3 separate regions of the Homo sapiens genome follow, and all the other regions are linked to region 3. Evidence: fine-mapped expression QTL. A gene starts in region 3. Each other region holds a variant in brackets. All regions are shown on one strand. Distances are from middle to middle.

What was found. PIP is the estimated chance that this variant, and not a neighbour inherited with it, causes the effect. A credible set is the group of variants that fine-mapping cannot tell apart.
Region 1: its variant is the best candidate, but not a certain one, in a credible set for the expression of RCAN3 in liver (GTEx, PIP 0.68).
Region 2: its variant is the best candidate, but not a certain one, in a credible set for the expression of RCAN3 in tibial nerve (GTEx, PIP 0.69).

What each region holds. Positions count from the first base shown.
Region 1 is chr1:24,538,476-24,548,337 of GRCh38, reverse strand. It overlaps RCAN3 (RCAN family member 3), which reads right to left. Exons shown (of 5, transcript NM_013441.4): 5 at 7,298-9,862. It overlaps NCMAP-DT (NCMAP divergent transcript), which reads left to right. Exons shown (of 3, transcript NR_109781.1): 3 at 8,462-9,064. Among named protein-coding and RNA genes, the nearest start is that of NCMAP-DT, 13 kb to the left of the region's middle. RefSeq lists an enhancer at 6,985-7,279. The variant C/A (reference allele first, on the strand shown) is at 7,094.
Region 2 is chr1:24,575,250-24,585,337 of GRCh38, reverse strand. All of the region lies in intron 1 of NCMAP (non-compact myelin associated protein), which reads right to left. Among named protein-coding and RNA genes, the nearest start is that of NCMAP, 24 kb to the right of the region's middle. The variant C/G (reference allele first, on the strand shown) is at 4,286.
Region 3 is chr1:24,498,713-24,508,800 of GRCh38, reverse strand. It overlaps RCAN3 (RCAN family member 3), which reads right to left and starts at 5,965. Exons shown (of 5, transcript NM_013441.4): 1 at 5,651-5,965. It overlaps RCAN3AS (RCAN3 antisense RNA), which reads left to right and starts at 6,419. Exons shown (of 2, transcript NR_144360.1): 1 at 6,419-6,453. RefSeq lists silencers at 3,916-4,116, 5,623-6,122, 6,404-6,576 and an enhancer at 7,180-7,279.

The DNA of each region.
Region 1 (9,862 bases), 40 kb before region 3:
ATATGTCTCTTCTTATGACGTGGAAGACTGGGATAATTGTGTTGTTTCACATTCAACATCAAGATCATAAGGAAGCTCTGTGGTAAATATCATAAAAACTCTCTGTCTGAAACTCTCTATACCAGAACTTACTTTGGGTACATTTATCAAACATGCTTAAAATCTACTTCTCGTATCTTGCCTGGAGTCAGAATTGAGTGGTGAAAAAAATGAAGACCAGATAAAAATCAGTGCTTACTTATTAGGTCTCTAAACTCGGACTAATTCACCAATGAATAAAATACTCTCCCCTTTTGGTCTTTATAAAGTTTCTTGAGATATTGAAGTTTACTGTGATTGAAGTTCACTGTGATAGCTATTTTATTTTTGTTTGCCCTGCTTTCATTTCCCTTTCTTGGGTAAAAGCCTTGCCCATCTGGCCTCAGGGATGGGCAGGCAACCCAATCTGGCCAATGAGAATCCCACTGCAATATGGAATCATAGAAAGAAGCTCTCCTTCCACCTGAGTTGTTGGTTACCATGTTCTCTGCTGCGAGCGGACATCCTTTTTGCAGTAAGAAGGAATTTGGTGGACACACAAAGAGAGGTAGAGACAAAGACAGCTGAGAGATGAAGAAAGAGTCCTTACCCTATGCCCTTCTAAGCTCTTAACAGAAGCATTTAGAGCTATACATTTTCCTCTCTACTTTAGCCCCCTTTTTCTCCTACTACATTGTACCAGGCTGGTCTATGACCAATACCATATGGCAGAAGTGATGGTCTGTCATTTCTGAGATTAGGTTATAAAAAGACTTCATCTTGGGCTCTCTCTCTTTCTCTCTCTCTGATCACTCGCTCGGGGGAAGCCAGCATCCATGTCCTGTGAGCAGGCTTCTGGAGAGGCCCCTGTGGCGAGGAACTGAAGCCTCCTGCCAACAGCCATGTGAGTGAGCAGGGAAGCAGACTGTCCAGCTGAAACAGGAAATTCCCCTTGACCTCTTTGTGAGCCTTGCGACAGGGGTGCCTCACTTACTTATCCCACAGCTCTCAACCCCTCGTGGGATGGGGAGCACAGGTGAACAGGTGCAGGAGCTGGGGCAAGTGCTTTTGGGCACTGGTAGGAGCAAAACTCCCATGGCAGCATCTAGAGGGGAGTACCTGTGACCCCCCCCCCCAAGAGACTGGAGGAGTGTTACAGTGAACACTCTTTTTAAAAATTATTTATTTATTTATTTATTTATTTATTTATTTATTTTGAGACAAAGTCTCGCTCTCTCACCAGGCTGGAGTGCAGTGGTGTGATCTCTGCTCACTGCAACCTCTGCCTCCTGGGTTCAAGCGATTCTCCTACCTCAGCCTCCTGAGTAGCTGGGATTACAAGCGCACGCCACCACGCCCGGCTAATTTTTATATTTTTAGTAGAGACGGGGTTTCACCATGTTGGCCAGGATGGTCTCGATCTCTTGACCTCGTGATCTGCCTGCCTCAGCCTCCCAAAGTGCTGGGATTACAGGCGTGAGCCACCGCACCCGGCCTACAGTGAACACTCTTTTAGCTTCTGCCGTTCACAGACGGCTTAAGTGTTAAACAGCTCAGTGGGCCCTCTCTCCACCTTTTCACGTGAGGTGGTTGCTTTCCACCAGCGAGGGCAGAGGGTCAGTGTGACAGCCTTCCGTATCCCAGGCTCTTGTCTGGATCCAGAAAAAAATCAGGTCACATGAACAAATTGAAGGATAGTAAATGCGGGGGATTTTATTGCTGCCAGAAGCGGCTCTCAGATGGAAGGAAAGCTGGAAAGGGGATGGAGCGGGGAGGTGGTCTTCCCCTGAAGTCTGGCCATCTCCAATCGGACTTTTCTCCAAAGTCCCACTGTCAAGCCGTCCCTCTGAAGTCAAGCTGCTTCTCTCTGACATCCGGCTGCTTCTTCTCTTCTCCCCTTCTCTGCTCTCTGCCAGTGGAGCCTGGGGTTTTTATGGGTACAGGATGGGGATTGGGTGGGCCAGGGGTGGTTTTGGAAAGGGCAACATTTGAATGGGAATACAGGGATTTTCTAAGTTTGGGCCATGTTTCCAGGCTTGAGGGTGGAGCTTTGCCAGGGTCCCTGTCCTTTTCAGCCTAGAATTTCTCTGCCTCCTGTCCTTATCACAGCCTTGCTGATGACTTGATGGCAACCTCTGAGAGACCCTGAGCCACCACTGTCCAGCTTAGCCACTCCCAGATTCCTGATCCTCAGAAACTGTGAGATAATGTTTTCTTGTTTTAGGCTGCTAAATTTTGGGATAATGTGTTGTGCAGCAATAGATAAGTAATACACCCCTTAATGGATTTTTATTAAACCTGCAGTTTAACTGTCTCCTTTTTCTCTAGCATGAACAACTAGTTAACTTCTCTCCGGGAAAACACACCTTAAAGTGTTCAATTCATATAATTGGACACATCTAGAGACAGGAACTAAGCAGGAGGGTAGCTCTGTGCCCTTTCACAATAGAAGTCATTAGTATACAGTATCTAGGATTAGCAGGATGCCCAAGGGCTGCTTCTCATTTGCAAAGGAGACAAATCTCCATTCTAGACTTTCCAACAGTTGTTAGAAATATCTAATGGGATAGAATAAATAGCCTGCCAAGTAACTGAAGTTATCAAGGAAATAAGTCAGAGGAGGCTAGTCCATTTAGTCCATAAAAGACCTTTCATTCACAGGGCTTACTCAGGCAATTTCTGAGAAATCATTTTTGGTTTAATTTCCTCCTTTGGGGGAAGGAGCCTGGTCAAATCTCTCAGGACAGAATACTGTATAATTTCCCATCAAAGATCTCAATTATTCAAAAGATATTTAAGAAAGATAGCACCAGGCCGCGAATTAACCTGATTACTTCTTTGAACCAAAAGGAAATGGTGAATCTAGAGTCAAACCACATGCAACGCTCTTCATTTGTAGCTCAGAGAAGAATGAATGATACAGTATATTTTTTTCCATCCATATGGGAGTACATTTAATAAAGAATTTTCATCTACATAATGTAGTAAAGTAAAAAAGAATCTGTTAACCCTTTAAAGTCTATCAAAAGGTGATATAAAGTCTCATAGTAAATCAGACTTATTATCCTTAATCAATTATCCTGCAATTATCCTTGATCAGTGTGCAATTATCTTGCACATTATCCTTGATCTGTGCAAGATGCCTCTTATGTTTGGAGATATATGTTTAATGTGTATCTTTTTATTTATATGTATTCTTGCAAAGTGCATTACTGTCTTTGTGCAGTACTTCACATAATGCAAATGTTAGATACATCTTCCTCCTTTTGGCACTCAGCTGTTTTCAAGATATATCCATGTGGCTGTGTATATGGCTACTCTTGCTGCATGGTTCTCCATAGTGTTCATTTTCCAGTTGCAAATACCAGTTTGTCTCCATAAATAATGGTGCAATGAACATCCTCAACATAGCTCTTTATGGCCCTGTGTGAGAATCCCTTTGGGATATTCTTGGGACATCTCTCTCTCTGTCTCATCTATCTCCAGGAGCAGAACTGCAGAGTCAGAGGTTTTGTTCTTACTTAGATGACCAAGGACTGCCAGTTTGTTCTTCAGAATGACTAAACTAGTCTATACTTCCACCAGTTTTATATCAGATTTCCTATATGCCCTCCCTCTGGCTATACTTGGCATTAATTGCTTTTACATTTTTGAGAATCCAATAGGTATAAATGGCATCTTGTCATTTTAATTTGCACTTTATCTGATTACTAGGTTTTAGTATTTCTTCATAGGCTCATTGTTTTCCTTTTCTGTCAATTACTTTTCATATCCTGTAGCCTATTTTTCTATTGGGCTGCTTTTCCTTGTCAATTTGCAGAATCTCTTTGCATTTTATAGTTATTTCCCCTGTGTTAGTGTCAGAGGTGTTCAAACCAGGGTGACTCCATCTTGAATAGGGGCTCAGTAAAATGAGGCTGAGACCTACTGGACTGCATTCCTAGGAGGTTAGGTGTACTTAGTCACAGGATATTTACAGTTAAGGGTACAAGTTAATAATGTTAATGTTAATGGGAAATAATAGACCCAGGAAATGTCCTGATGTCCCAATATCTTAAGAACAAAAGCATTTTTAGTTTAAGAATATGTTTCGCTTTAAAGATAATAATATAGATGCTTGTGGAAGACAGCAGTTACGCAAAGATTAACAGTCCTTTGTCACAAACCTTTGTAGTAGAGCACATCTCCGCCATGATTTTTGCTTTATCTTATATATAAACAAGCATTGTATCTTAGGCAGGCACGTTCCCCCTTGTGCTTTTGGGAACGCCCTACTCTGTTTATGGAGTATCTATTCTTTCACTCCTTTACTTTACTTTCTTTTCTTTTCTTTTACTTGAGACACAGTTTCACTCTGTCATCCAGGCTGGAGTGCAGTGGCACAATCTCGGCTCACTGCAACCTCCGCCTCCTGGGTTCAAGCGATTCTCCTGTCTCAGCCTCCCAGGTAGCTGGGACTACAGGTGCGCACCACCACGCCTGGCTAATTTTTGTATTTTTAGTAGAGACGGAGTTTCATCATGTTGGCCAGGCTGGTCTCGAACTCCTGATCTCAAATGATCCACCTGCCTCAGCTTCCCAAAGTGCTAGGATTACAGGCGTGAGCCACCATGCCTGGCCCATTCCTTTACTTTCTTAATAAACTTGCTTTTACTCAGCTAGGCACGGTGGCTCACGCCTGTAATCCCAGCACTTTGGGAGGCTGAGGTGGGTGGATCACCTGAGGTCCAGAGTGCGAGACCAGCCTGACCAACATGGAGAAACCCCGTCTGTACTAAAAATACAAAATTAGCCGGGCGTGGTGGTGTATGCCTGTAATCCTAGCTATTCGGGGGGGCTGAGCAGGAGAATCGCTTGAACCTGGGAGGCGGAGGTTGCAGTGAGCCGAGATCACACCATTGCACTCCAGCCTTGGCAACAAGAGTGAAACTCCGTCTCAAAAAAATAAAAATAAATAAAATAAACTTGCTTTCGCTCTACTCTGTGGACTCATTCCGAATTCTTTCTTGCATGAGATCTAAAAATGCCCTGTAGGGGTCTGGATCAGGGCCCTTTCCGGTAACATCAGGACTGCAAATATTTCTCCCTATTGTGTGAACATTTTCATGGCATTCTTCATTGAACATGAATCATTGATTTTGATGTAACCAATTAGAATTCTTACCTTATAGCTTATGCTTTTAAAGTTTTATGAAGTCTCTCCCTGCCTCTAGGTCACAATGATATTCTCCCACAATTTGTTCTATTAGTAATTTTACATTCTAGATTTAGGTCTTTAACTTTTAATTTTCAGCATTTAACTTTTCCAAACATTTCGGACCACAAACTTTTCCCAAGTAACTTACTTTGAAATACCTTACTGAAATATCTAATCTACAAATTGCTTACATTTATACTTTCTATGTCTCAGAAGACCCGGGGAAGCTTGGCAAGATGAGATCTTTCCTGTGTGTGCAAGAATTTTAATCTTTTCTTCTTCTAGATTAGAACATTTTAATGTGTTCATTGAGGGCAGGAACATAGTGGTGGCTCACTCCTGCCCTTTAAACATACTTCTCAGTGATAATAGGACTCTGATACATCTGATACATACATTGTATGCGTTTAACTTGAAGCCAGTCTATTAGGTAAATTACTTAAATCTTGATTCTTGTATTTCCTACTCTGCATTAAAAATTTTGTTTTTGGCCGGGTGCAGTGGCTCGTGCCTGTAATCCCAGCACTTTGGGAGGCTGAGGTGGATGGATCACCTGAGGTCAGGAGTTCAAGACCAGCCTGGCCAACATGGTGAAACTTGTTTCTACTAAAAATACAAAAATTAGCCAGGCATGATGGCGTGCGCCTGCAGTCCCAGTTACTCGAGAGGCTGAGGCAGGAGAATTGCTTGAACCCGGGAGGCAGAGGCTGCAGTGAGGTGAGATTGCGCCACTGCACTCCAGCCTAGGCAACAGATTGAAACTTGGTCTCAGAAAAAAAATTTGTTTGTGTGTGTGTTTTGTCCTAGGTTCTTTGCAGTGGTTTTCCAATTTTCTGTTTTAGCCAAGGAATCCTTAGCTCAAGTGGAAAACATGCTAGGACCTTTAGGTATAGCAAATAATAGGAGAGTTGAAGCAGGAGTGAAAGGCCCCAGGAACCTGGAAGCATGGCGCCCCCTGGAGGCAGCCCCACAGAACACAGCTTGGAAAAACTTCAAAGTGGAAATGTCCTCAGCGACTCCGCTTTAGTTTTTTAAAAACAAAAAAGGCCAGGTTCGGTGGCTCATGCCTGTAATCTCAGCACTTTGGGAGGCCAAGGCAAGTGGACCGCCTGAGATCAGGAATTAGAGACCAGCCTGGGCAACATAGGGAAACCCTGTCTCCACAGAAAATACAAAAATTAGCCGGGTGTGGTGGTGCACACTTGTCATCCTAGCTACTTCGGAGACTGAGTTGGGAGGTTGGGGCTGCAGTGAACTGTGTTCATGCCACTGCACTCCAGCCTAGGCGACAGAGCAAGACCTTGTCTCAAAAACAAAACAATATCAAGAACCTTTTTATCCAGATACATTTATCCAGAAAAATTAGATTTTGGTGTAACAAAGTAGTGGAGTGTGGTAGAAAGAATGTCAAGAAATGGGTTCTAGTCCCAGGTCCATGACCATCCAGATGTGTGCATTTGGCAATGCCTCTGGGGCCACTTTCTTGTAAAGGTGTGTTGGGGGTGGGGTTGGGATGGAGGAGGAAGTGGAGGGAGGCAGGGGCAATAGAGGGGTGTGTCTGGGTCTGTTCTGCTGAGCTCTCACAGGGGTTGAACTCAGGTCCCCATTCTTCCCCCAGCCCCTTGAAAAGGAGCAGCTTTGTTTACCTTTCCTTTTTGTAATAGTTTTACATTGGCTTTGTGTAAGATTTCATTTGAACAAAGAGCAGAGTCCTATGGCTTAAAAATAAGTATTCGAAATCCCACTGCACTAGATAACCTCTACTGTCATTTATAGTTCCACATTTTGGAGATTTTTTTTTTTTAACCGAGACAAAAAGTAAGTCTTTACCCGGAATAAATCATTTTTAACCAAAGGGGAAACCAGGGTAAAAGGTTT[C/A]TTGGGGAAGAGCTGAAAGTGCAGTGGTTATTTACAGAGTGAGCAGTGACTCACCACCTTGAACTCTGGCACTGCACGGCATTAATGTTCAACAGGACTCTTGTGAAAGGAACAAACACAATATTGCACTTCTCTGTCTTATTAGCTAAATGTAAGTGATGCGTATTGAAAATACTACACACAAAAAAACTCAACTCAATGGACTGATTTAAAAATAGTTACTAACTTTATTTGTATTCGTTTTAAAAACAGAACTTGTTACAGGTAATCACGAAGCTTCCAAAAAAAAATTACATTCTGCTTTTGTCATCTTGATAGGACAAGGAATGTTTAGATGTCCTTAAAACACAGGGTAAAGTTGACAAATAACAAACTACTACAAACTATGGATTGTCACTTCAAGCACACTAAAATGTGGAATACATGTACATAAATTACTGACCAGTTTTTTGCAATACAAAGAGTATGCACTACAGCTTATATACCATAAAGGTAACATGCCCCAAAATATAACAGAAGATCACAAACACGTTCGGAGAAAATAATAACTTTGACTCTTGGGTTCAATTAAGATTGAAGTGAAATGATTGGGAAAGTTTTCTGAAACTTGAAGGGCACGCACATTATAGCAGAACCGTCAATCAACAATCACGTGGGGTTGAAAAGCAGCAAGAAGAATATGGCACGGTAACAGGGGTAACCACCTTTCTCTCTCCTCAGTCCCCAATTTGAGTTAGGAAGATTGAGGACTAAACAGAAAACAGTATTTAAAAACATGTATTATCTGCATAGATAGAAATCTTCCATTACGATGAGAGTGAACATTCGGTCAAAGCTATGCAGGAGTGCCAAGAGTCTGCAGGATATGATTCTGTTTCAAAAGGAAATATATAGGTTTACATCCAGACAGACCACATAACGAATTTAGTGAAAGATCTTTACGCTGTTATTTAAGTGGGTAGAGACGCTGACTCAGCCCCAGGTTAGTTCTTGACCTTGGCTAAAAACTCTACTTTGAACGTGATGATTTTTATAATCTTTGTCAGTGAACCCAGCAGTTGTTGCTTTCAGTTGTCTTATGGATTGTACATTTGGTAATAAGAAAACAGTCTCCAAATGATTAACATTTTCCCCTGATTCACAATGAAACAACGGCATTCTGACGAAGATGATCCATACACCGAGGGGAGTTTAAAAGACAAATAAGTATTCAGCGAATTGTAGGACAAGGTTCATAAATCTTTTAAAACTTTTTAAATAGTGAGTTTCTGTAACATGGACTTACAGCTCCAGCTAGGAAGCAACTATTGCCCCATCTTTTGTTCCTTTATATTGTCACCCCAATTATAAATAATTTGTTTCTTTTAGTACAGGAAGATATAAATGCAAATGTGCAAAAAAAGGAAGAAGGAAAGATGGACCAAGTTCACCTGTTTGGTACGTACAGGGTCCACAGCTCTGCAGAAAGGGGAGAAACCTGGTAGACAGAGGGCCTGACGCACCATAGCATTGAGCACATTTTCCACTGCTTAATTATGTGTGAGATTTTCCCTTTTAAAATAAATCTATGGTCTGTGAAATAGTCTGTATAAAAATATGAAGCCTTGAATAGGCCAGTCATAGCAGTTCCGTCTTGAATAGAACTCAATTTTACAAGCACGGAGTGAGAGTATCATTCCACTGCAAACTCTTTTATTTCCACAACATATTAGATCTCATTCTGCTTTAGTAGAGTTACCTCTTAAGTACGACTATTAGTCATTTCATTAATATGAAAATCTGGGAAGGCCCACATAAAATACCAACATAATTGCTGGCTACCAAGATAAAATTATTTAGGCAGATTCCAGCCCCAATGGTTCAATGATAACAAAACTACAAAACATGGGACATCAAATTCATTAATAAAATTATTAAGTCACCTCTTCCATCGAATGATGAGATTTTTCTTATTCACTGTTTCCCATCAGGGAAAAAAGAATCCTCCCACCTCATGCCTTTTTTTTTTTCTGATGCCAGGAATTAGTATTCATTGCCTCTTTAAGAGGCCAATGCAAAAAAAGGTAGAAAAAGCCCTAGCCCAGGAGTTGGGATTGCCAGTTGTAGTCCCTGGGTTGCCTTGCTGGGGGTGCCTAAGTCAGTGCCATAACCTCAGTTTTTCTAATCTGTGTAACATGGGGATAGAGTATATGATTTCCAAGGTCACTTTCACCTCTGTGATTGAGCCTCTAAGAAAGCCAAATCTTTTCACTTTGTAATCATGACATTTTTAAAAGATGGAGTTAATATGAATGGGAAACTTTTTTTTTTTTGAGCCAGGGACTTGCTATGTTGCCCAGGCTGGTCTTGAACTCCTGAACTCAAGTGATCCTCTCACCTCAGCCTCTCAAATAGCTGAGACTACAGGCACACACCACTGCACCTGGCTAAAGACTATATTCTTAAAGAATAAAAGTACTGCACTTCACCTCTATCTCCTGGTATCTCTTCAATTCAAACACACCATTAATGACTACAATATTTTATTTAAGGCCGGGCGCAGTGGCTCACGCCTGGTTAATCCCAGCACTTTGGGAGGCCAAGGCAGGCGGATCACTAGGTCAGGAGATCGAGACCATCCTGGCTAACGTGGTGAAACCCCGTCTCTACTTATAAAAAAAAAAAAAAAAAAAATTAGCCGGGCGTGGGAGCGGGCGCCTGTAGTCCCAGCTACTTGGGAGGCTGAGGCAGGAGAATGGCGTGAACCCGGGAGGCGGAGCTTGCAGTGAG
Region 2 (10,088 bases), 77 kb before region 3:
AACAGCAGTGCACAAGAAAGGAAACCCGGGAATGAACTTCCAAGCACTCTGTAGGGTACATAGTCACCCGAGCCGCCTGAATCCTTCATGGCCATTTCCTTCACCCTCTATTCCTCTTGGATCCCTTATCATAAGCTCCCCACCCCGTCTGCCCTGTCTGTTCATGGCTCTGTGTATCACAGCTCCCAAAGTTGGGGTAGGAATTCTGCCGTGTGCTCCCCTGAACTGGAGGCCATACACAATTACATACTGAACATGTGTTCCTTGTAGTTGGTTCCCAGAAATAAGGGAGCACATTTTCTGCTCCATTTACCCATCTATTCTTTCATCCTGCTATCCACTCATGCCCCCACCCACCCACCCGCCCACCCACTCACTGGGCACACAGTCCTTCCACCCGTTCTTCTGTCCATCTGTCCTCCCATCCATTCAATCAATGCCCACCCTGTGCATAGGACTGAGAAGACGCAAAGAGGGCCGTGGGTCTGTTTTAAACCAAAGAACAATACATAAATAAATAAAATAAAAACCAAAAAACCAGAGGGGCCAAGGGGATTATGTCCTGAGGAACTCAGACCGAAAGAATGAGAAAAGGAATTGTTTCCTTTCAGAATCTTTTCTTCAATCACATGTACTGGGCATCAACCCCACCCCACCGCCCACCCCATGCCTAGCCCAGCACTGACCACAGAAAGGTGCCTGATCAATATCATACTGCAGTCCTATGGCAAAAGCCGCAGCCTGTGGCTCCAGAAGTCTGGGTTTCAGGCCCACCACACACAGACTTCAGGGGAAGTCTTACTTCCCCACCCTGTCAAACGGTGGCTCAGATGTCCTTTGCTCTGATTTTTGTGACCCACATTGTAAGAAAAGGGGACTCCAGGAGCTTCTAACCCAAGACCTGCAGATATGATAAGCTGAGTGTGCTAAGAGTTATAAATAGAAACCCCAGCTGAAAGTGGTCACAAGGCTTACTTTGCTGGTGCCAAAAGGGTGGCACACACAGTGCCAGAAGTCGGTGGGAGGAAGAGACCCGTGGACATTGTGGTGGAGATTGACTGAGAGCTAGAATGTGACCTGTGGCTTCCGTCTACCTCTCAGTCTCTGGGCTCAAGCCAAGGACCCAACTCTTGAGAGTCCTCGACCTCCATAGGAGCTCCCATGTAAATCTCCAGGTGTCCCGCTGTCCCTGTGGGGCGGGGGGAGGGCACAGGGTTAATGGGTTTATGCCCCTCAGTGAATATGTCAGAGGATAATAATGCCACCTCGATATTCTAGGCCAGGAGGGAAGGAAGCCCACACTCAAGCAGACCCTATGCAAGTGCCAGGCACTGTGCTTTCACATGCTTCCCCATTCAATCCACACAGCGAGGCAGGTCTTTTCATCTCCACTGTGCTGATAGGAAACGGAGGCTCAGAGAGGTTAAGGGACTTGCCCAAAATCTAACAGCAGGTCAGTGGAGGAGCTGAGTCTCAAACTCAGATCTCCTACTCCAAACCGTCCTCGGCAATCCTGGTCCCCGGGAGGTAAGCAGTATTCCTGGGGACACTCTGATGGTCAGTGACCCTGCTAGGGAAGGATTCTGCTCACCTGCTCACTTTTTTTTTTTTTTTTTTTTTCTGAGACGGAGTCTTGCTCTGTCACCCAGTCTGGAGTCCAGTGGCGTGATCTCAGCTCACTGCAACCTCCACCTCCCGGGTTCAAGCAATTCTCCTGCCTCAGCCTCCTGAGTAGCTAGGATTACAGATGTGCGCCACCACACCTAGCTAATTTTTTGTATTTTTAGTAGAGATGGGGTTTCACCCATGTTGGCCAGGCTGGTCTCGAACTCCTGACCTCAGGTGATCCGCCCGCCTTGGTCTCCCAAAGTGCTGGGATTACAGGCATGAGCCACCGTGCCTGGCAACTCTCTGCTCACTTTTCTTTCTACCTGTTGATATTTTGAGCCCAAGAGGTACAGCCAGGCCTCAGAGTATGGCAGAGTTTCTCATCCTTGGTACTACTGACATTCAGGCCAGGTAATTCTTTGGTGTGAGGGGCTGTCCTGTGCATTATAGGATATTCAGCACCATCGCAGCATCCTTGGCCTCTCTGCTCACTAGATGCCAGTAGCATCCCACCAGTTAGAACAACCAAAAATGTTACAGGACATTTCCAAATGTCCTTGGGAGACAAAATTTTCTCTGCTTGAGAATCACTGGAGTAGAGCTATTTGGCCTGCCTCTTAACAGTTTCCTATTCTCCCTATCCAAGAAGAACTAGATAAGAAGGAAAATGTCCAGTCTGTTTTCATACCTGTGGATAAACAACCAATAACCATGATGATGACGACGATGGCGATGACCAAAAGCACAATTACTGCCATTGATCAAGTGTCTTTTACGTGCCAGTTACCATGCCAAGTACTTTGTATATGTTTTCTCCATATATTATTCCTATTTTACAGACATAGGAGCTGAGGCTCAGAGAAGTTAGGAAACTTGCCTGAGGCATCTGTGCTGATACATGGCAAAGCTAGGATCTATACGTTTCCTATTGCTGCTCTAACAAATTATTGCAAATTTAGTGGCTTAAAACAACACACATTAATCTTCTTTCAGTTTAAGAGGTCAGAATTCTAAAGTTGGCCTTAGTGGGCTAAAATCAAAGTGTTAGCAGGGCTGTGTTCCTTCTGGAGGCTCTAGGGGAGAATTCATTTCTGGGCCTTTTCTTGCAAGCTGCCTGCATTCCTTGGCTCGTGGTTTCTTCCTCCATCTTCAGACCAGCAGCGTAGCATCGTCTTACCTCGCTCTCTCTGATCTCTGCTTCCATCATCACATCTCTTCCTCTCTCTGTGACCCTCCTGCCTCTCCCTTATAAAGAACCTTACGATGACATTGGGCCCACTCAGCTAATCCAGGATAATCTCCCCACCTCAAAGTCATGAACTTAATTACATCTGCAAAGTTCCTTTTGCTGTGCAAACTAACATATTCTGAGGTTTGGGGGATTAGGATGAGGATGTTTTTGGGAGGCCATTATTCAGCTTCCTACATAGGAGTTGGGCTCTTATCTGTCTGATCCCAAGGTGTGCACTCTGAATCCACTCCTGCTTCATCTACACTGCCTTTACACGCAGACACACAGGCCAAGCACCACGGGAGGCACTGAGGTGGATCCGATGTGTGCAGGGGGTGGTCGGCACGAGCAACGAATCAGGAGGTTGCGCATGAGAAGGGCTGTGAGAGACGGACAGAGAAAGAGTCCTGGAGCCGCTAGGCCAGCTGGGGTAGGGGAATAGGGAGTGGGCTCAAGAGGCAACTGGGCAGGCCTGATTCCTTCCCTGCTGAGCAAGCTGATTTCATGTAAGTCTTAGCACCAACTTACCTCTAACTTCACTTCAAAGGTATCCATAGTTCATCCTGTCCTGAAGGACCGGTCCAGCCCAGCCCCTGCCAGCCAGAATTCTATCCCATCTGTGGGATTTATTTGCCTAGTTAACTCATAACCAATCTCAAATCTTCCTTTCCAGAGTTCCTCCCTGCCAAGGGCTTAGAAGGTCTTTGGTCTTGTAAGGACTTTAGTCTTGTAAATGTCTACTAAAGTAGACTGTCTGCTTTAGGCCCCTCTCTGGCCAGTTCTGATTTGCAAGGATGTCTTTCAGCTGTCTGGCCCCTCCATGAGCCTCATCAATCCCTTTACAGACTAGAGGAAGTGCGCTGGGTTGGTTAGCTGGGCTCTCTTTCCCAGACAGGCAGAGCCTTGGACTTCTCCCAGCGACTCTCAGTCCGTGCAGTAACTTAGGGTGGTTTCTCTAGGCTACTGAACACAATGAATTTCCTGCCTGCAGGGAACTTACAGGTAAGAAGGATGAATTCCGGTTGGCCTTATCTTGACATAAACAAAGTTTGGGATACATCTTTTAAACAAAAGAAAGCAGGGGCCGGTCACAGTGGCTCATGCCTGTAATCCCAGCATTTTGGGAGGCCAAGGCAGGTGGATTACTTGAGGCCAGGAGTTCGAGACCAGCCTGGTCAATATGGTGAAACCCCATCTCTACTAAAAATACAAAAATTAGCCAGTCGTGGTGGCGGGTGCCTGTAATTTCAGCTGTTTGGGAGGCTGAGGCAGGAGAATCGCTTGAACCTGGGAAGTGGAGGTTGCAGTGAGCCAAAATAGCACCACTGCTCTCCAGCCTGGCATCGCAGCGAGACCTCGTCTCAAAAAAAAAAAAAGCAGAAAGGACTTCTGGCTGGTTCAGCAAACTAGATGGAGCACGACTATTCATCTCTGCTTCATCCTGAA[C/G]CCCCTGGCACATGACAGTGAAGGAATCAAGAATCAAGAGGCGTCAACTCTCAAGGCCAAAGGGTACAGAAGAGAAAACAACCACACTGGAGAGACGCCAATCCAGGTTTGAAAGCCGGAAAAGCCGACGGCTGAGTATGACTTAACAGCCTGGAAAAGGCAAAGGCCTAAACCTACAGACTAGGAAACCAATTAAAGCTGATTGCACTGAAGAAGCCCCCCAGACTCAGGAGTGAGTGGTGACAGAGATCACCAAACGTCAGGGTGCCAGGTGGGGCTAAACAGAGGAAGACTGCCTGGGCGCAGTGGCTCACGCCTGTCATTCCAGCACTTTGGGAGGCTGAGACGGGCGGATCACCTGAGGTCAGGGGTTTGAGACCAGGCTGGAACTTGACAAAACATGGTGAAACCCTGTCTCTACTAAAAATACAAAAATTAGCCAGGTGTGGTGGTGCATGCCTGTAGTCCCAGCTACTCAGGAGGCTGAGGCAGGAGAATCGCTTGAACCTGTGAGGCGGAGGTTGCAGTGAGCTGAGATCGCACCACTGCACTCCAGCTTGGTGACAGAGCAAGACTCCATCCCCCCACCCAAAGAAAGAGGAAGACAAAAGTTAAGGCGCAGCTCCACTCTGCCCCCCTCCACCCCTTCCCTCCGTCCTCACCACTGTGGGCCTCCTCCACCCTGCAGAACAGAGTGAGTTCTGCCCCCGTCTGCAGAGGCAGCCAGGAGGAGGTAACCCTGCACTGCCTGACATGATAGCCACATGTAGCCATGGCAAGTTAAAGAAAAATTAATTACACTTAAATACAATTAAGAATGTAGTGTCTCCGTTGCATTAGCCACATTTCAGCTGCCCAGTACCCGCCGTGGCTGGTGGCTCCCGCATTGGACAGCACAGGATGGTGTCAAGTCATTTTGGGCAGTGCTGCCGCAGGCTGTGGCCCTCACAGTGTGGTCCATGGATCAGCAGCACCGGCAGCTCTGGCGCTTTGTTGGGAATGCAGAATCTCAGCTCCACTCAGGCCTGCTAGCCAGAACCTACCCCTCGGCCAGACCCCAGGAGATTCATAGGCACATTTGTCTGGGAAGCTCAGCTCTGCCAAAGGCTAATCTCTGGCTGAAAATGGGAATGTCAAAGCCTAGGCTCTGGGAAACAGACCAGCCAAAGGGAATAGACCTACAGATACTGATTGACTAGAGAATCTTCTAATACAATGGCCAGGTTCTGTCCAGTCGGCCTATGGAGAGGCTGCTAGTTGACAAGCTCTGCCCACCTCACCTAGAGTTTTGAACGGATTTTTGTTTCCTTATTTATTTATTTTTGAAACAAGGTCTCACCCTGTTGCTCAGGCTGGAGTGCAGTGGTGCAAATCATAGCTCACTGCAGCCTTGAATTCCTGGACCTAAGTGCAGCCTCCTGAGCAGCTGGGACTACAGGTGTGCACCACCATGTCTGGCTAACTTTTTTAATTTTTAGTTTTGTAGAGATGGGTCTTGCTATGTTGCACAGGCTAGTCTTGAACTCCTAGACTCAAGTGATCCTCTGGCCTCAGCCTCCCAAATTGCTAGGATCACAGACATGAGCCACCACCCCCAGCCTATGTCTTACTCTTAAATAGGAACAGATAGCCAAGGAGAGGAGAAAAGACCTTTGAGAGGAGAAAAGCCCCAAGCATGACAGACAGCAAACAAAACAATGAACAGATGGAGGCATTTAAGGCAAGTAGAGACAATGCACAGAGAAGAAGAAAACATTGATATATTCAGACAGCTAAGATATTGCATCTATAAAACAAGAACAGGATGCTATGAGAAAGGACACTTTTGGGCATGAAGTCTTTAAAAAAAAAAAAACCCCCACCCTACCCCATGCACCTTTTCCCAGGAAGCCCCTGGAGGATGCACCCACTAAAGTGAGCGAGGGGTGAAGCAAGAGAAGGGCAGGGATTCCAGGGACCAGGGGCTCCAGCCTCCAGTAGGAAGGAGCAAGAAGATGCCGAGGTCCGCGCTGCCGGGCACAGTCTGCGGGTAACCAGCCTGACTGGGGTGGGGGAGGTTCTGTCAGCCAAAGAAAAAATGAAACCTGTAGATTTTCTGATGTGTTTGTCTAGATGGAAAGGAGATCTACTCTTCTCTTCTGTTGGAGAGTTTGCCGGATGAGTTTATGATAGAAAACAAAGCTCTCAGTCAGGTGTAGTGGCTCTTGTCTGTAATCCCAGCACTTTGGGAGGCTGGGGCAGGAGGATTGCTTGAGGCCAGGAGCTTGAGGCCAGCTTGAACGGTATAGTGGGACCCAATCTCTACAAGAAATAAAAATAAAAATTTGCTGGGCATGGTAGCATGTGCCTGTAGTCCCAGCTATTTAGGAGGCTGATGTGGGAGGATCACTTGAGCCCAGGACGTTGAGGCTGCAGTGAGCTGTGATTGTACCACTGCACTCCAGCCTGGGAGACAGAGCAAGAAACCGTCTCAAAAAAAAAAAAAAAAAAAAGAAAGAAAGAAAAAGAAAACTAAGCTCCCTCCCCCAACAGGCTTAGGGATTAAAACTCCTCCTTTCTATTCCAGCTACCCTCCCTCCCACCCCACTCCCAATTTCTCTTCACCACACCACACACCCTCTGTGGAGGCTCTAGGAAGCAACTCCGTGTCCCAGGATCCTGGAGACCCCAGTTGGAAAACTCCTGTGTCCATTGCCCTCTCTTCTACAAATGGGGAGACTGAGGGCCAGCAAAGCCCCCGGGAGCACATAGACAGAGGAAGGTTCATTGGTAGTTTATTTGGTACAATTTTTTTTTTTTTTTTTTTTGAGACAGTGTCCCACAGGCTGGAGTGCAATGGCATGATCTTGGCTCACTGCAACCTCTGCCTCCCAGGTTCTCGTGCCTCAGCCTCCTGAGTAGCTGGGATTACAGGCACATGCCACCATGCCTGGCTAATACTTTTGTATTTTTAGTACAAACAGGGTCTCACTATGTTGCCCAGGCTGGTCTCCAGCTCCTGGCCTCAAGTGATCCACCCGCCTCAGCCTCCCAAAGTGCTGGGATTACAGGCGTGAGCCATTGTGCCTGGCCTATTTGGTACATTTTTTAGACCTCTTTTCTAATTCATTCAAAACAAAATGCGCAACAGCAGCAGCAAGAACCAAACCACCCCTAAAGGAGCCATGGCCGGGAGGCGACTTGTAAGACCCCCGACCCCCGGCCCATGCATCTCTCCTTTAAGCTTTCCTCGCAACCACCCTGCTGTCGTAAGGCACTAAGTCTCCCAAAAGCTCGAACTGAGGTTTCCGAGTCACTTCATAGTCACCTACAAAAAGCAAGACTATGTAGATGTAGTTAATATCTATGCCATGAACAGGGCAACTGAAAACTTCTGAGAAAAAAAATTGGGGATGGGAGTGCAGGAAAAAATTCAACTCCAAATGAGTGCCAGCAATCTCTTTGGAACCAAGTGTGTTGACTTCCAGAACCAAGGCCAGGCCGGGCATGGTGGTTCAAGCCTGTAATCCCTGCACTTTGGGAGGCCGAAGTGGGAGGATCACTTGAGGCCAGGAGCTGGAGGCCAGCCTGGGCAACGTAGTGAGAACCCATCTCTACAAACGAAAAACAAACAAAAAAACCAAAAAAAAAAAAAAAAAAAAAAAAAAAAAACAAGGCCAGTGCCTTCTTAGAAACTCCAAAAATCTGAATTTATCCCTAATGGATCTTTCAGTGGTCTCGCTTTTGTTTCTCTGTCTCTTCCTCTGCCTTATCCAAGGGCTTGGCTAACCACAAAGTGTTTGTTATTAATGAGTTAAGGATGACAATTCTCTGGGAGTATCTGCATTTTAATATGAAATTCTAGGAAATCTAGTGCTCTATAATTTTAGCATGTGACATCCTTTTTATTTTTTATTTTTATTTTTATTTTTTTTGAGACGGAGTCTCACTCTGTCGCCCAGGCCTGGAGTGCAGTGGCGCAATCTTGGCTCACTGGAACCTCTACCTCCTGGATTCATGTGATGCTTCTTCCTCAGCCTCACGAGGAGCTGGGATCACAGGCATGCACCACCACGCCCAGCTAATTTTTTTGTGTGTGTGTGCTTTTAGTAGAGACAGGATTTCGTCATGTTAGCCAGGCTGGTCTTGAACTCCTGACCTCAGGTGATCCACCTGCCTCAGCCTCCCAAAGTGCTGGGATTACAGGTGTGAGCCACTGTGTCCTGTGTAACATCCTTTCTTTGAGTCCCAAGGTCTTGGTCTATGGGGCTCACTACCTCACCTACTTAACACGGCCATCTTGAAAACTCCAACAGAGAGGCCTGAGATGGGGGGCAAGAACCCTGGGCTGGAGTTAGGAATCCTGGGTTCTAGTCTCACCCCTGTTACTTACTTTCTGTGTGACCTGGGGCAGGCCACTTGTTCTGTCTGGACTGCAGTTTGCCCTCCTGCAAACTGAACAGCTGGGGACCAGGGACCTCCCTCTCTGGCCCCTTCCTCCTTGTGACTCTTCCAGCCTCTCACTTGGTTCAGGACACCCTCCCCGAGGCTTGTTTGCCTCCACACCCTCCATTCCAGAAGGAACACCCCTCCCCTTTCCTGCCAAGCCTGGGCCTGGCAGCCGCTGGACTCCAGAGAGGACAGGAGTTGGGGAAACAATCCCAGCCGTTCAAGCTGCCCACGGTGTGAGCTGGCCAGTGGCCAGTCACAATAGGCCCAAAGATACAGAGGGGCGTTTGTCTGGGGGACCTGCGGTGTCATTTAAACCTACACTCTCGTCTTGGCCTGCCGCCTGTCTTTTCTTCCCACCCTCTCAAGCAGCAGTGCCAGCCCCCAGCTTTGTCAGGAGGTGGGATGTGGATGCCGCACAGACCTAAGTGGCCTTTCTGTGGCTGGGAAACTGGACCAAGAAAGGCAGGTCGGGGGACAGGCAGGGGAGCCATCTGTGCAGGGTGGCAGTGGTGAGGGTGGAGGATGGGGACAGCGAGGGAGGGCAGGAGAAGCTCTGGACGGGGCAATGCGGCTGTGCAGAGAGGATCAGGATGAGGGAGCTAGTTCTGACTCCTTCACTAACTAGCCAAGTTACTGTGGGCAAGGCGCTTTCTTCTCCTCTCCAGGACTTAGTTTCCTCATTTTTTTTTTTTTTTTTTTTTTTTTTGAGAGTGCAATGGTGCGATCTCGGCTCATTGCAACCTCCGCCTCCTGGGTTCAAGCAATTCTCCTGCCTTAGCCTCCCAAGTAGCTGGAATTACAGGCACATGCCACCACGCCCGGCTAATTTTGTATTTTTAGCAGAGACGGGGTTTCACCATGCTGGTCAGGCTGGTCTCAAACTCCTGACCTCAGGTGATCCAGCCGCCTCGGCCTCTCAAAGTACTGGGATTACAGGCATGAGCCACCACGCCCGGGCAGTTTTCTCAGTTTTAAAACGGGGCAATTGCTCCTAATCTGTGAGGACTGGGTTAAATACAGTGATGAGCTTGCAAATGCCAAGTGTGGCTTGGCGAAGACAAGGGTTTGGGCTCAGATGGACCTAGGTTCAGATTCTGCCTCTGTCACCTTTAAAATCACTGTTGTAGACAAATTATTCACCCTCCAGGAGCCTCATTTCCTCATCTGGATTGTAAGGATCAAATAAGAGCTGACAGAAAGCACCCTGCCCAATAAACCTGTCTGAACGAATGAAGACTCAGTCGGGTGCATTATGACTTCTGTGGGGCTCTCCCAGCGTAATACATTTTCGTGGGCTCTAAAAATTTTATTTTTTTTCCAACCCGAGGGAAAAAAACTGAAACTTTTTTGCTGCTCTAAAAGTTCTTTCCCC
Region 3 (10,088 bases):
CTTAATAGACTATAGTATAGTGTAAACAAGACTTTTATATGCACTGGGAAACCAAAATTCGTGTGACCGGCTTTATTACAATTATCTGTAACGAAACCCGCGATATCCCCGAACAAGCCTGTAGTTGAAACCCAGTGTCAGGTCTCAGCCTATCTCTGTAGCACATGACCTGGCTGCCTATTCCATTCATTCTTAGACCTCCCTGTGTCCCTGCCTTCTGGGTCTTGCCTCTTCCTGGCCCTTCTTCCTCACCAGCTCTATCTTTTTTACTGCCTCTTTCTCCACATCCTCATCCTTTTTTCATCTTTCTCTCCTGCGTGACTTTATCCACACTGGAGTATTTAGCTGCCTAATCACCAGAGGTTCTCAACTAAGTTCCTGCCTCCCTGTGGTTCACACACACCTGTGTCAATACTGGCTCTCATTTCGTGCAACGACCTTAAGACAGGATGAATGTCACCAAAGTTGGGAGGGAAGCCAGAGCAGAACCTTGAGCAATAAAGAGGATGGGTAGTTTGGAAAAGTACCATGTCCCCAAGAGCCTGTGATCTACCTGTTGGTCTTTCCTGCCTACATACCCTGAAAATCAGTCATCCATATGGGTACATTCAAATTTATATACCAAGACTCACTCTCAATCCTGAGTTCTAGTCTTGTATTTTTCACTTTTTCTTTCTTTTTTTTTTGAGACGGAGTTTCACTCTTGTCCAGGCTGGGGTGCAGTGGCGCAGTCTCGGCGCAGTGGCGCGATCTCGGCTCACTGGCGCAATCTCGGCTCACTGGCAACCTCTGCCTCCAGGGTTCAAGCGATTCTCCTGCCTCAGCCTCCCGAGTAGCTGGGACTACAGGCACATGCCATCACACACCTAGCTAACTTTTTGTATTTTTAGCAGAGATGGGGTTTCATCATGTTGGTCAGGCTGGTCTCAAACTCCTGACGTCAGGTGATCCCCCCGTCTTGGCCTCCCAAATTGCAGGCGTGAGCCGCCACCACGCCTAGCCGTATTTTTCACTTTCTATTGAATATATCTATCTGGGTGGCCCACAGGTACAACAACTGTTTTTAACTTACTCATTTATCGTGCCAGAAATCTCCAATCTGGAAAGGGGCCCTGCGGAAGCGGGGCAGGGAGTGACAGTGTATCTCACTGTGGCTTTCATTAATCTTTTCTTCAAGACAAAGTTGTCAGGTGGACTTAGCTCTTACAGTGCTTGGTTCATTTTTCTGTTATACACTTACATTGTGATTATTTGTTTACAAATCACTCCTAGCTACAAGACTGTATCTGTGAAACCCCAGGCCCTGGCATAGTTTCCCGCTCACAGTGTATGCTTAATAAGGGAGGCTGAATAACAGCAGGTAGTATTTTAGTTACCCCACTGATATGTCAGCACAGACAAAGGTAAATTGAATTCTGCATGGGATTAGAGATAGCTTCCCAAGGAGGCAATGGTGAGACTTCAAGGATGAACAGAATTTCAGGAGGAAAAGAATGGGGAGCATTCCACACAAAGCCAGCAGGACATGAACAAAGGCAGGAAGACAGTAGGACCAGCATGCACAAAGGTCACGTGATCTGGCATGGCTAGGGTGCAAGGTGTTTGGTGGGGGTGGCATGAGACAGTCGGAAAGGCAGGTATGGGCCAGGTTGCCAAGCAAGTAGGGTTACAGAGTTTTGACACAAAAACCATGTCAATATCAGCATGCCATTGTGGGTTTTTAGGCAGGGAAATGATAAAACCAAGTGCAATTTAACTTTTAGTATCTCTAAAGGTGGGCTGTCTTTGTATCTTATCTCTTAGAGGCACTAATGTTTCTATCCTATTCCCAACCCATTAAAAAGAGGTAGAGAAAATACTGTGCCCGGGTTTTTGGAGGCTGGTAAGTTGGGGAGCTCTGGCTGACTAGATTTTGAAATTTGAGAAAGTCAACCTATTCTTGATAAGATTTGTTTGTTTCAAGTTCCCTCGTCTAACCCGTAAAAAGATTTTAAAAAACAGAACACAGGAAATAATCCTTCACCTGACTTAAAAAAAAAAAAATTCTTAGAATATCACACCTTCATTTCCTGTTTTCTACCTTCAATTTTGAGTACCTTTTTTTTTTTTTTGATATAACTTCAAACAGAAGTTATAAGAATAGCACAAGGAACTCGGGTATGCTGTATCCTTTACCCAGAGTCACCAATTCCTTCTGTTTTGACCATCTGCTTTATCTTTCTCTATTTTTATAGACATGCATTTTCCTGAGCCATTGAAAGATGGAGCATACCCCTTTTACTTCCAAATACTTCAGTGTATAAGAACAAGATCATTTTCTTATATAACCCATAGGATAATTATCAAAAACAGGAAATTTAACATTGATATAATACTATTATCTAATACATAATTTGTCAAATGCATAATCTGGATTCAAATTTTATCAGTTATCCTAATAATGTCTTAGCTATTTTCCTTCAATTTTTCTTTAGATTATTGTCAAATTATTTGTCGTTTGTCCCAAGATATCTATATTTCTTTCTTTTTCCTTTTTTAGAGACAGGGTCTCTGTCATGCGGGCTAGAGTGCAGTGGTATAATTATAGCTCCACTCCAACTATCACAAGACTAAACTGTTCCTCAGTTTACCAATCCAGGGAACTCTTGACTGGCCCAGCAGAAAGGGCTGAACCGATATCCTCCAGCTCCTGTAAGCAAAAGTCTGTGCTAATCCAGGTTTCCCGTCATCTCCAGCACAACTCTAACTACGGCTGGCTTCTGGCAAATTGTTTCTTCATGGAAATATCAAATGAGTGGAAAAACTCCAAGTAGCATGACCATCTGCTCTGCCACAACAGGCCTGTGACAAAAGTCATCTATCAAGGCAAAATGTCAAGCACATGGCATGGATCTTGCATTTTCTGTTCTGATCAGGAAAACGCAAATTCTTTCTCCTCCAGGATTAAAATAATAATAATTTTTCAAATTAATAGGCTTCCCAACTTGGTGAACATTTCAGTATCTTAGCTAGATGTACTTTTCACTTTTTTTGTATGTTAAAAATGCTACCAAACAATACTGGAAGCAAACAAGTGCTCCATTATCAGCTCTACAAGTGTCCTGCTGTATAACCTTGGGAAAAATCCCTTGGTTTTTCTGTATTTATAAAATGAACAAGATAAAATACATAAAGTGTATAAAATATATAAAATAAACATAGGTGCTTTGGGCTACTAAGTTCCTTTTTTAAATTTCTAAATTAAAAATTTCAACTAAGTTAAACAAAACAAAACACTTGGACTGGTGTGGTGGCTCATGCCTGTAATCCCAGCACTTTGGGAGGCGGAGGCAGGCGGGCTGCCAGAGCTCCAGAGTTCGAGACCAGCCCGGGCAACATGGAAAAACCCCGTCTCTACAAAAAAACACATGGTGCACGCCTGTAGTCCCAGCTACTCAGAAGGCTGTGGTGGGAGGAATACTTGAGCCTGGGAGGCCAAGGCTGCAGTGAGCTGTGTTTGCACCACTGCACTCCAGCCTGGGCAACAGAAGGAGATCTCAAAAAAAAGAAAAAAAAAAAAAAAAAAAAAGAAAAAAGAGAAAAAAAAAAACAAAGCAACAACAAAAAGCCACTTAGGATCGTCAATGCGAAGTTCTGAACGGCTATCACGAAGCCCTACCTTCTATTCTCTACTCATTTACCACTTACAGGTAGAACTGTACTATTTTTTAGTAGCTGTGTGTAAGAAAAATTTCGTGCGACAGTAAAGTAAAACGGGTGAAAATTTGATTTTTGTATTTTGTATGTTTCAATGACCCATGTCTTGTTTTCACAGATAACCTAGAATTGGTCCTGTTATAATTGAAGTTCCACTCCACCAGGAATTTGTCAGCAAGAGACAGATAGAAATAAACAACAAAAACCAGCCTACAAAACATATGAAAACAACAGGTTTTAAAGAATAACTGAAGTTGAGATATATAAGACTGATGCTATTTGTTGTGCTGTGTATAATTTCTTTTCCCTGGATAGAACCTCTACATTCTAGGGGAAAAGTGGAGATTGCTGTCCGACCTCCACCTTCTGTGTTTTTTTTCTAAGTAACAAACGGTGTTGAACTTTAGAGCTTCCATTATTTCACAGGCTTCAGGCTAATGGATTTCCGCGTCACACTATTTTTCATGCTTTAAGTCCTTCAACCAACAACTCTAACACCATATAAAATCTGCTCTTGTCTGTTACCTAATGTTCACATGTTTGAAACCTTTACAAACGTTATATTTCAACAGCAGGAAAAATCTTGTTTCCTAGAAAAGCACTGAAATCTGTTTTCAGGCTAAGAGAGAAAAGGTTTGGCTGGGTGCGGTGGCTCATGCCTGTAATCTCAGCACTTTGGGAGGCAGAGGTGGGCGGATGGCTTGAGCCCAGGAGTTCAAGAACAGCCTGGGCAACATAGTGACACCCAATCTCTACAAAAAATTAGCCGGCATCTGTAGTCCCAGCTACTCAGGACGCTGAGAGGTGGGAGGATCGCTTGATCCTGGGAAGTTGAGGCTGCAGTGAGCTGTGTTTGCACCACTGCACTTCAGCTGGATGACAGAGCGAGGCCTTGTCTCAAAAAGAAGAAAAGAGAAGAGAAGAGAAAAGAAAAGGCAAGGCTTGCCAATGCAGTAAAATGTAAAGCTGATGACCTGGCTAAAGAAGAGACTCAGTTTTCAAGCTTTTCACAGTCTTCCTGGATGGAAAGCCCATTTCTAGATCAATTTAAATCCCCACCAAAAAGAACACATTTGTGTGATGCATATCTGGCTCCTGAATTATGTGTTTACAGAGTTTAAGATATTGAACCAAAGCCAATGAAATAGTCTTAAAACAAATTACTTTACATCGTATGTAATCACAGCTACAGATAAATCAATTGCTTCTTTTGCCAAATAGTACATCAGAGACTTCTATGAAAAGTTCAAATAAATGTGGTGTACTTGGTGGCTTCCAACAAGTGGAAGCGAATATTTTTGGCTTTCAGCACTACAGGAAAACATCACTTTAAATAATCCTTGTTTGTATCTGAAACACGGATCTGGATTGCTTCCTACACTAGAATCCTAATCTCTAAAGGAGATGATCAGATTTTGCACGGAAGCTAGAAGAATCAACCTGGAACAGATCACTCCTGCCCTACCTGTCCAGGCGGCGGACAGAAGCAGACAGACAAGTTTCAAGAAGTTAGGGAGTCACTAATGCGATGGTGATCCACGCACCGTGGGGGAAGCGGGGCAAGGGAGAAAGACAGGGGGCTTCCACCTTCCAGGCGCCCCTACACCGCTCCTGCCTTCACAGGCAGGCTGGGCCTGTCGGCTTTTCAAAAGGTCAAACACACTTGGTGGGAGAAAATCGTTGGTGGAGAAGACAAAACATTTTTGTTTTGTTTTCCGGGACACCACCCTCGAGGCTGCCAGACTAGACCCCGCGCGCGAGAAGGGTGCGGCGGGAGGCGAGGTCGCGGGAGGCGAGGTCGCGCGCGGTAGCATCTCCCGGTCCCGCGGCTCGGAGTGCCCACCCCTCCCGGACTTCTCGGGGCGGCTTTTTTTTTTTTTTTTTTTTTTTTAACTTTTCATGCACCACCCCCCCCACCCGCCCCGCCCCGCCCCGCCCCGCGCTGGGTGCAAACCTGCTGGAGAGGCCGGGCGCCGTGGGGCCTCACCTGCACGCCCCGCCGCCGCAGGACGGGAGCCGGGAGGGCAGCGGACGGGCCCGGGCTGCCCGACGGGGCTGCGGGGAGCCGGACGGCGCGAGCTGCGGGGCCTCTGGGAGCCTGGTGGGCGGCGGGCGGGGCCGAAGGCAGAGCCGGGAGCCGCCTGCAGCAGCAGCCTCGCCGCCACGCCCTCGACGCCGGCGAGAGCGGCCCCCTGGGCTGGGACTAGGGCGGTGTCCCGGCTGAGCTAGGCTGCCGGCGCCGCGCGCCCGCCTCGTCCCCTCCTGTTCTGGCAGGGCGCGCGCACGGCGGCGCAGGCGCCAGAGCCCAGGACAAGGCGGGGACCCGGGCGGGGACCGGGGCGGGGGCGCGCGGGGGCCGGGGTGGGGGTGTCTCGCCGCGCGCGCCCTCCTCCCGCTCCTCCGGGTTCCTGGTCCCCAGCCTGTGGGGGGCTTGGGCTGTAGCGCTGGGGCGGGGGCTTTAGATCACCCCGAAAACAGGACCTCTGGCGACCTTCTCGTTTTCCACCGGGAGCGGAGAGAGCCGATCTCCTTTTCCTGCTAGCCCCGTAGGACAGTCCCCGGAGCAGCTCATAGGAATATGACGAACGTTTACTCAGGGCTGGTTACTATGTACACTGCGCCCCGCGCGCGGCGAGTTTACCTCGGTTCACCTCCCGGCAACCGGCGGCCCGGATATTATCAGATGCTGTGGGCTTCCCGGCGCCTCATTGCCCGAGGAGAGGCGGCCGCAGGTAGCTGAGCTGGAGCTAGCACAAGGTGTGGGACGGCACAGGCTGGGTCCCGCCCTGGCGGGTACAACCCTCTTCCCCTTACCCACTCCTTCCCCTCCCCTCCCATCCCCTCCCCTCCTCTCCTCCCCACTCGTGCTCTTCTCCCTCCTCCCGCTCTCCCTCCTCCTCTTACTCCTCTTCACCCTATGCCCTATCTACCGTTGTCATACAATCCACATGTTTAATGCTTTCTTTTTCGTGTAAAAACCCTTCCACGCAGTCTTGCTTGTCTCCGACGCCTTAGGAGACCATGGGACATGATTACAACTATTACGCAAAGGGAAGAGCCGGGGTCTAAGCTGTTGAGCGAGTTTCAGTGATAGGACCGAGGCTTACATTGGCAGGTATTATTACCACCAATAACAACTATGATGACAAAGCTCCTGAGCCCAACTTGGAAGGCAGCTGGTGTCTCTTCCCTTAGCCGGCAGAGAAGGAAGCAGGGTCACACAGCAGGGAAAATAACTGGGCTCATCTCCCACCTACAAGGACGCGCAGTCACGCAGTGGTGCGCACCCGTAGTCCCAGCTAACTCAGGAGGCAGAGGTGGGAGGATCGGTTGAGGCCAGGAGTCTGAGACCAGCCTGGACAGCATAGCAAGACTCCGTCTCAAAAAAAAAAAAAAAAAGGAATGTGCAGTTAGAAGAAAATCAGCTCTCATTACCCACTCAAGACCTTTCAGAGGCAAAGTGAGGCACAGTGAAGCTTAACATCAAAGGCACTCAGCGCCTGCATCATGGGGCAGGAAGATGGACTAAAATGTGTACAGCACATCTAATCCCTGTTAGATGTAAACTAAGAAATCAGGGTTGGATTATGACCCCAAGGGCTCCCCAGCAGTTGAGCCCAGCATAGTCACCGAGGTATGTCCAGCAGATCGCCCCTCCTACTTCCTGCTTGCTGCTTCTGTGGTTCCTGCTGCCTCCAACCGTGCTGCTCCTGCTCCCCATCTTGTCTTAAACTAAGTTCTTCACTTTCATTCGTTTAACTAATATTGATGGCAAGCTGCTTCTTTTGTCAAGGTCACTCTAAGGACTATAGTAATTATTTTTTCTCTAAATTCCTCTAACACAGCAACTTTTGCAAAAATTGAGGGTTGTTTTTTTTTTTTTTTTTGGTGTTTTTTTGTTTGTTTTGAGATGGGTCTGCTCTGTTGCCTAGGTTGGAGTGCAGTGGCACAATCATAGCCTCAACCATCCAGGCTCAAGTGATCCTCCCATCTCAGCCTCCTGAGTAGTTGGGACTACAGGCACATGCCACCATGCCTGGCTAATTTTTCTACTTTTTGTAGAGACAAGGTTTCACAATGTTGCCCAGGCTGGTCTCAAACTCCTGAACTCAAGCAATCCTCCTGCCTTGGCTTCCCAGAGTGCTGGGATTATAGGCGTGAGCCATTGCACCTGGCCAAAAAATTGAGTTTTCACATCAAATGAGATTGGAAACAGCTGCATTCCATAGCCCTGCCTGGAGATGTCTGATGCACGTTCACACAAAAAAAATGGCCCTGAGAGATCCTAAGTCAAACAACCAGATTAGCTTAATTTAGTTTCCCTGAGGTATTAGGCCCTGTGTGGGTGTTGGGCTTGCAAGGGTAAGGTCCATAGAGATCTGCCACCTGAGGAGCTCACAGATGGGGGAGACAGTGATTGTGATACAGTTGTATTTGTGCACTGAGACATTTGCAAAGTGCTGACAAAGCAGAGGAAGAAGTGAGCAATCCTACATGATGGTTCAGGGAACGGGGTTCGCATTTTCCAGTATTATTCAAGATTCTCTTTTTTTCATGGAATACATCAATCAGACTGGGTTAAGCAGCAAATGGAATGCATTGACTCACATAATAGAAAAGTTTGGGGCTTCAGGCATGGCCGGATTCAGGGGCTTAAACTACGACATTAGGATTAAGTTTTTTCTCTCCATTTTTTTTTTTTTTTTTTGAGACGGAGTCTCGCTCTGTCGCCCAGGCTGGAGTGCAGTGGCGCGATCTCGGCTCACTGCAAGCTCCACCTCCCAGGTTCATGCTATTCTCCTGCTTCAGGCTCCCGAGTAGCTGGGACTACAGGCGCCCGCCACCACGCCCGGCTAATTTTTTGTATTTTTAGTAGAGATGGGGTTTCATCGTGTTAGCCAGGATGGTCTCGATCTCCTGACCTCGTGATCTGCCCACCTCGGCCTCCCAAAGTGCTGGGATTACAGGCGTGAGCCACCGCACCCGGCCTCCATTTCTTGACTCTATTTCCTGTTGACTTTGCGTTCTTAGGCTTCCTTTTCCCCATGAGATGGCAGAATGGCTGCTTACAATTTCAGATCACACCCTTTCCAGCAGAAAGGGAGTTTCTTTTCCCTGATGCTGTCAACAAAAGTCCCAGGACTACATCCCATTGGTCTAACTTGTGTTACCCGTGCATCACTAAACCACTCTCCTGAGAAGGGGCATGGAACATTCTGACAGCTCCTCACAAATCGCGTGGACTGAGATTTGGGGAGAGGTGGCTTCCTGTGCTAGATCATTTCTGTTGGCCCTTCCAGACCTACTCTCCACCCTTTTCCTTCCTGATTTGAACCTCAAGAGGCCAACCTGCATGGACTGCTTCCACAGATCCCTTGTCCTCTGACTTACAGTTGAATTCACCAAATAGAAGACATTGGAAATGAGACCCGAGGGTTGGAGGAGGAGGAAGGTAAGGGTATTATTCCTCTGGCCCCTGCCCTTCTGGGTCGCTGCAGGTTGGCTACATGTATTTATTGAAGCTTCTGTCAACTGGCCTTCTTCACACAGCTACTCTCTCCTAGTTCTAGTAAATTCTCCCTTCTCCACCTCCAGAATTATCCACCCTGGAGGTGATAATGGCTCCCCTCTGTTGCCTGCCACAGTGTATCACACCATCAGCCCTGCTTTTTCCCTCAACCCTGCCCACACATCTGTATGTAACCTTTACTAAACCCCCTTTAGATTAATCATCTGCTGGGATGCTGATGGTTACATTCAACAAAGGAGATTCAAGTCTCTATTACCAAAAGAAAGGGGAATGAATCAAGGGCAGGCAACAGCACTATGGTACTGATATTGGTTTGGAAGAAGTATCACCATAGTGCAGACCACAGATGACTGTGGCTTGGACAGGGTCGTGATGGGGGAAGCAATGAGAAATGGTAGGATTCTGGCTATATCTCAGAGGCAATGTTAACACAGTTTACTGAGGAATTGTATGTAAATCATGAGCAGTAGAGAGGAGCTGAGGGTGGAAGTAGTTGGAAAACATGCATCTGGAGCCTAGGAGTGAGCTCAATGAGTAGTGATTTGGGAGGGAGGCGCGTTAGTTAGTTGAAACCACGGGCTCAGATGAAATGACCCGGGGAGCCCACGTAGAATAGAACACAGAAAGGGCAAAAGGCAGAATCTAGAAGAACAAACACCAGCCTTTCCATGGTGAACAGAGGAAGAGTTGCCATCTTGTATCTATCGTCTAGATCGTGGGCAACTCGATAACTTGAGCGCAAGAACAGAATCTTCCACATCCTTCCTTTTTACCATCGTGTCTAGCGAGGTGATGACCACACGGTGGGTAATCAATGCTTGTTATGAATGAACTTGACAGTTCCACATTTCTAACACTCCCT